Regions from separate parts of the Homo sapiens genome. Here region 1 is linked to region 2. The links come from fine-mapping of genetic effects on plasma protein levels. Region 2 holds a variant in brackets. A gene starts in the other region. All regions are shown on their forward strands. Region 1 holds the start of TIE1 (tyrosine kinase with immunoglobulin like and EGF like domains 1). Region 2 overlaps LUC7L (LUC7 like).

What was found. A credible set is the group of variants that fine-mapping cannot tell apart. PIP is the posterior inclusion probability: the model's chance that the variant is causal. Protein levels are from antibody-based Olink assays in UK Biobank. Linkage for the fine-mapping came from a reference panel and not from the study's own genotypes, which makes the PIPs less certain.
Region 1: TIE1 starts here. The variant in region 2 is the best candidate, but not a certain one, in a credible set for the plasma level of the TIE1 protein (UK Biobank, PIP 0.63).

The regions. Positions count from the first base shown.
Region 1 is chr1:43,299,674-43,302,583 of GRCh38, forward strand. It overlaps TIE1 (tyrosine kinase with immunoglobulin like and EGF like domains 1), which reads left to right and starts at 1,309. Exons shown (of 23, transcript NM_005424.5): 1 at 1,309-1,456. The coding sequence starts at 1,399. RefSeq lists a silencer at 1,149-1,248 and an enhancer at 1,279-1,368.
Region 2 is chr16:205,191-208,100 of GRCh38, forward strand. LUC7L (LUC7 like) reads right to left here. Exons shown (of 10, transcript NM_201412.3): 4 at 2,888-2,910; 5 at 814-957. Among named protein-coding and RNA genes, the nearest start is that of LUC7L, 23 kb to the right of the region's middle. The variant T/A (reference allele first, on the strand shown) is at 1,532.

The DNA of each region.
Region 1 (2,910 bases), not on the chromosome of region 2:
AGCTCAACCAAGCTGCAGGGACCCAGCCTCCTGAGAAAAGTGAATGTGAGCCCGGTGCATTCAGAGGAGAATGAAGCCTTCACCCAGAACACACTCTGGGAAGATGTCCCAGGCCCAGGGGGAGGGTTTGTACTACCAGACCTAAGTCACCTAAACTGACACCAAGTCTCATCCATCCCAACCATTCCATTCCGGGTCAGAGGGGTCATCGATTTAACCAGCAAGGCTGCCCATCCAACGGTTGCTCCCTCTGCTCCCTGGAAGGGCCTCCTCGTGGGCGTTCTGTACCTACAGGTCTTGTTCCGTTCTGGGAACTGCCAGTGGTGGCAAGAGGTGGAGCAACGGGTGCCAGGGCAGGGAGAGGTGAGTCTGGGAGGGAAGCAGAGGCAAGATCCATGGGGCTTTAGAGACTTTGCCAAAGCAGTGCGACTGCTCCCAGGTTGTTGTCAGCCGTCAAGAGTGAGTGCACCTCCCTGGGCAGACTTCTGCTGCCCCAGTGCCCAGGAATAGGCAGGGGTTTGCCGCAAAATGAATGACACCTGGCAGACAATAAGCTGAAGCTTTCATTAGCAGCTTAAGCTGAGGACTATCTATGCAACCGATACTCCCTGTGTGCTCCCCGGGACTGCTTAATGTGAGCCCTTGTGGAGCGATTGGCACCAAGAAAGCAAGGACTAAGTCAGAAGTTCAAGTCCCAGCCTTGCCACAGCCTCAGGGTGCCCTCGAGCACAGCAAGCCTCAGTTTTCCCATCTGTACAATGAGAGAGGTACACAAGGTAGACTCGAAGGCTCTTTGTTGCCAGGGCCCTGTGTTCCTTTGAGTGTATGTGCTTCTCAGGCCCACAGAGGTCCTTTGTGTTTCGTATGTGAACTGCTCTCTAGGAAACCCATGTAACTGTCTGTGTCCTGGGGCACATACATGAGGACTCATGTGGGCCGTATTGTGTGTTTGTGCCGGGGGGAGGGGAGACCCCAGAACAATGTCCCCCACCCCACCCCCCTCCTCAATAGGCGGAAGCCACTGGCTTCCTCCCTTTCCTGCCTCCTGCCTCCTTTGTGCCAGCAAGACTGAGTACTGGAGAGAGACAGGGGATGGGAAAAATCAGTCCAGCTGTCCCCAGGTCTGCCCTTACCATAACCTTCCCCCCACCTCAAGTGACTCCTCCCAGGCCACACCCATCCCCAGCCTTGTGGGGGCCAGATTGGGGGGCCTAGAGGCTCAAAGGCAGAATGAGTCCTCCCACCCCCTACCCTGCCACCCCTCCCACCCAAGCCACCTCATTTCCTCTTCCTCCCCAGCACCGACCCACACTGACCAACACAGGCTGAGCAGTCAGGCCCACAGCATCTGACCCCAGGCCCAGCTCGTCCTGGCTGGCCTGGGTCGGCCTCTGGAGTATGGTCTGGCGGGTGCCCCCTTTCTTGCTCCCCATCCTCTTCTTGGCTTCTCATGTGGGTAAGTCTCCCCTGAGTCCCTCACCCCATTTCTAGGCCCCGAGGCCCTGATTTCTACCCAAGAAACCCTATTTTATCATAGAGACAGAAAGTAGGATGATGGTTGCCATGGGCTGCAGGGAGGAAGAAATGGGGAGTTTTGTTTAAAAGGTACAGCGTTTTTACAAGATTTTTACTTGGTTTTACAAGATTAAAAGAGTTATAAACATGGGGCCGGGTGCGGTGGTTCATACCTGTAATCCCAGCACTTTGGATGGCTGAGATGGGAGGATCAATTGAGGCCAGGAGTTCAAGACCAGACTGGTCAACATAGTGAGACCCCGTCTCCATTGTGTTTAGACTTTCGTCTTTTTCAAAAAAAAAAAAAAAGGATGGATGGTGGTGATGGTGGGACAACACTAGGAATGTATTTAATCACATTGGGTTATATGCTGCTTACAAATGGTTAAGATGGCAAAATTTGCCGGGTGTGGTGGCTCACGCCTGTAATCCCGGCACTTTGGGAGGCCGAGCGGGTGGATCACAGGGTCAGGAGATCGAGACCAGCCTGGCAAACATGGTGAAACCCCATCTCTACTAAAAATACAAAAATTAGCCGGGCGTGGTGGCAGGAGCCTGTAATCCCAGCTACTTGGGAGGCTGAGGCAAGAGAATCGCTTGAATCTGGGAGGCAGAGGTTGCAGTGAGCTGAGATCGCGCCACTGCACTCCAGCCTGGGCGACAGAGCAAGACTCATCTAAAAAGAAAAAAAGATGGTAAAATTTATTTTATATGCATTTCACCACAACAAAAAATTTTGGAAAACAAGCCCTATCATCACTGCCATCACTTTGATCCACTAGAAAGTGAGATCAAGGCCAGGAAAACACAGGCAAGTGCTAGAAATCACTGCAACCTGGGATCAGGGGAGGAGTGAGGAGTAGCCGCTGACTGTGTTGGATCTGAGGATCTGTGGAGGGCCATTTTCAGGGGGTGTTCATAGGGTAATTGTGTTGGATTCACTCAGTTGTTCACTGGACAAACATTTATTGAGCACCAACAATATTCCAGGAGTTGTGCTAAGTGCTGGGCCATTAGTTGAGAGGCTGGCAACACCTAGTCTGTACAATGAGATTAAATGATGCCAGCCTCCTATGGTTGTTATGGGGTTTAAATGAGAAAATGATGCAGAGCAGTTGGCACAGTGCACTGTGCTTGGTAAGGATTTCTGAGTAGGTGGCAGCTGATTCCTTCAGTCTGCTGGTCAGCCGATTAGAACACAGAGGCTGCCTTTGAGTGGTTCATGGTCTAGTGCAGAACACAGGACAGGGGAAGAGGGCTAAACAGGGACAGACACAGGAGCTCTAGAGGAGCACTGAGGAGGAGTTCAGCTTACACTGCCTCAGGTAGGAGACAAAAAGGGAATCAAGGAAGATTTCACTAAGAGGGGTGGTCTTCATTCCAGGCAGCCAGAAC
Region 2 (2,910 bases):
TTTTTAGAGACAGGGTCTTGCTATGTTATCCAGGCTGGACTCCAAAAGTCCTAGGATTAAGGGATCCTCTCATCTCAGCCTCCCGAACAGCTGAGACTAAAGCCAAGAGCCACCATAGCTGGCCATATGCTTAAGTTTTGACAAATGTTACCTTTTCATAATAGACTTGTGTATATTTTATGGCAGTAAATAAAAGACTAGTATCCTCATATATTTTATGTATTCATGACATACCTAACATTTTCTGCAGACTTTGGGTGATAATGACAAGTCAACGTAGACCCACTGACTGTGGGCAGATGCTAGGAATGGAGGAGGCTGTCTGAGGAGAGGGTACATGGAGAATCTCTGTACTTTCCTCTCAATTTAGCTATGAAGCTAAAACTGCTTGCAAAAACAGCGTTTATAAATTTTTTTGAGACAGAGTCTCGCTCTGTCGCCCAGGCTGGAGTGCAGTGGCGCAATCTCAGCTCACTGCAAGCTCCGCCTCCCGGGTTCACGCCATTCTCCTTCCTCAGCCTCCGGAGCAGCTGGGACTACAGGTGCCTGGCGCCATGCCCGGCTAATTTTTTTGTATTTTTAGTAGAGACGGGGATTCGCTGTGTTAGCCAGGATGGTCTTATCTCCTGACCTCGTGATCCGCCCGCCTCGGCCTTCCAAAGTGCTGGGATGACAGGCGTGAGCCACTGTGCTGGGCCCAAAATGTATAAATTTTTTAAAAAATGGGAGCAAGCATGGGCTCAATTAATTCCAACGGTCAACGCTGCCAAATTACTAAGATTTCTCTTGCCCTAAGGCACTTATCTCACCAACCTCAGCTTCTTTTTTCTTCGCACGAACTTTTTCCACTTCCATAAGAATCTTCTGGGATTCATCCACATTACCTTCAGCCCCTAGCTGTTCGGCTTTAGCAAGGAGTTTTCCTATTTCTTCATTTAACTCATGTACTTTTTCTGCCTGTGAGGAGAAAGAATGAGGTAAGCAGACATCTGAAAATGAAAGTGAATGCAAAGGCAACAAGGGTTTCTCCTGCTCCATTTCCAGTCTGAAAATAAGTGGAAGAGCTAAAGATCCACACTTAACAATGAAGGCATCCTTACTGCCAGCATTGAGACTGTAACCATAAACGAGTCCTATGTTCCAATGAAACCAGTGGCACCTTTGTCACTTCCGACATGCTTCCAAGGATCATCACAGATTGGTCATTGTCTAGGCTGTCTCTCTTTATGACTTTTTCTTCTGGGTATGGTAATAAAATGCCTAGGTTTAAATGTACAGATTTAAGCTGTAACCAAAATACCTAATTACTAGGATTTACCTTCTGAAACAAAATAGCACCGTTGGTCAAATTAGCAATTGCATAAATCCTAAGAAATGCTTTTACAACACTGAAAAGAAAAAACAAGGAGAGGCTTAGTTCCACTGAAGAGAAAAACAGAAGAGTGATGTAAATGGCACTCAGTCTAATTACATATAAATCTACCTCCTTTTCATTCTATGATATGGATGTACCACAGTTTGACCATTTCCT[T/A]ACCAATTCTTTCCAGTTTTATGTGGAGATATTAAAGTTTAAAACAACATGCAGAGGCTGGGCATGCTGGCTCACACCTGTAATCCCAGCACTTCGGGAGGACAAGGCGGGAGGATTGCTTAAGCCCAAGAGTTCCAGACCAGCTTGGGCAACAGACTCCATCTTTATTAAAAAAAAAAAAAAAAAAAAAAAAGATGGCTGGGTGCAGTGGCTCATGCCTGTAATCCCAGTACTTTGGGAAAACGAGGCGGGCAGATCACGAGGTCAAGAGATCGAGACCATCCTGGCTAACACAGTGAAACCCCGTCTCTACTAAAAATACAAAAAATTAGCTGGGCGTGGTGGTGGGCACCTGTAGTCCCAGCTACTCAGGAGGCTGAGGCAGGAGAATGGCGTAAACCCAGGAGGCGGAGCTTGCAGTGAGTCGAGATCACGCCACTGCCCTCCAGCCTGGGCGACAGAACAAGACTCTGTCTCTTAAAAAAAAAAAAAAACCGACAATAATTTTTTTTTCTTTTGAGGCAGGGTCTCACTCTGTTATCCAGGCTGAAGCAAAGTAGCATGATCACAGCTCATTGAAGCCTCAATCTCCCCAAGCTCAAGTGATCCTCCCACCTCAGCCTCCTGAGTAACTGGGATACACATGTGCACCACCAAGCCTGGCTAATATATGTATTTTTTGTAGAGATGGGGTTTCTTCATGTTGCTCAGGTCTAAAACTCCTGGGCTCAAGCAGTCTGCCCCCACCTTGGTGTCCCAAAGTGCTGGGACTACAAGCATAAGCCACCAAACTCAGCGAAGAATATATTAAAATTAAAAAATAATGATAAACCATGTACAGAGGACGAAAATGGAGAGAATAAAAAGACAGAGGTAGCAGCTCCTGAGGGATGAGAATTCCATGACACATGAATGCTTGATCACAGCCCTCTATCCTTAACTGGAGTAAGGCAGAGAGTACTGTCCACACAATCAGTGCTGAGGGTCAGTTAATAGCTATTGACAACGCCGGGCGCGGTGGCTCACGCCTGTAATCCCAGCACTTTGGGAGGCTGAGGCAGGCAGATCACGAGGTCAGGAGATCAAGACCATACCGGCTAACACGGTGAAACCCCGTCTCTACTAAAAATACAAAAAATTAGCCGGGCATGGTGGCGGGCGTCTGCAGTCCCAGCTACTCGGGAGGCTGAGGCAGGAGAATGGCATGAACCCGGGAGGCGGAGCTTGCACTGAGCTGAGATCATGCCACTGCACTCCAGCCTGGGTGACAGAGGGAGACTCCATCTCAAAAAAAAAAGCTATTGACAAGCCAGTATTTTTAAGAACACACCAGACACCGAAGCCACCCAAGCATACCTTTGCAGAAACTTCCGCACTGA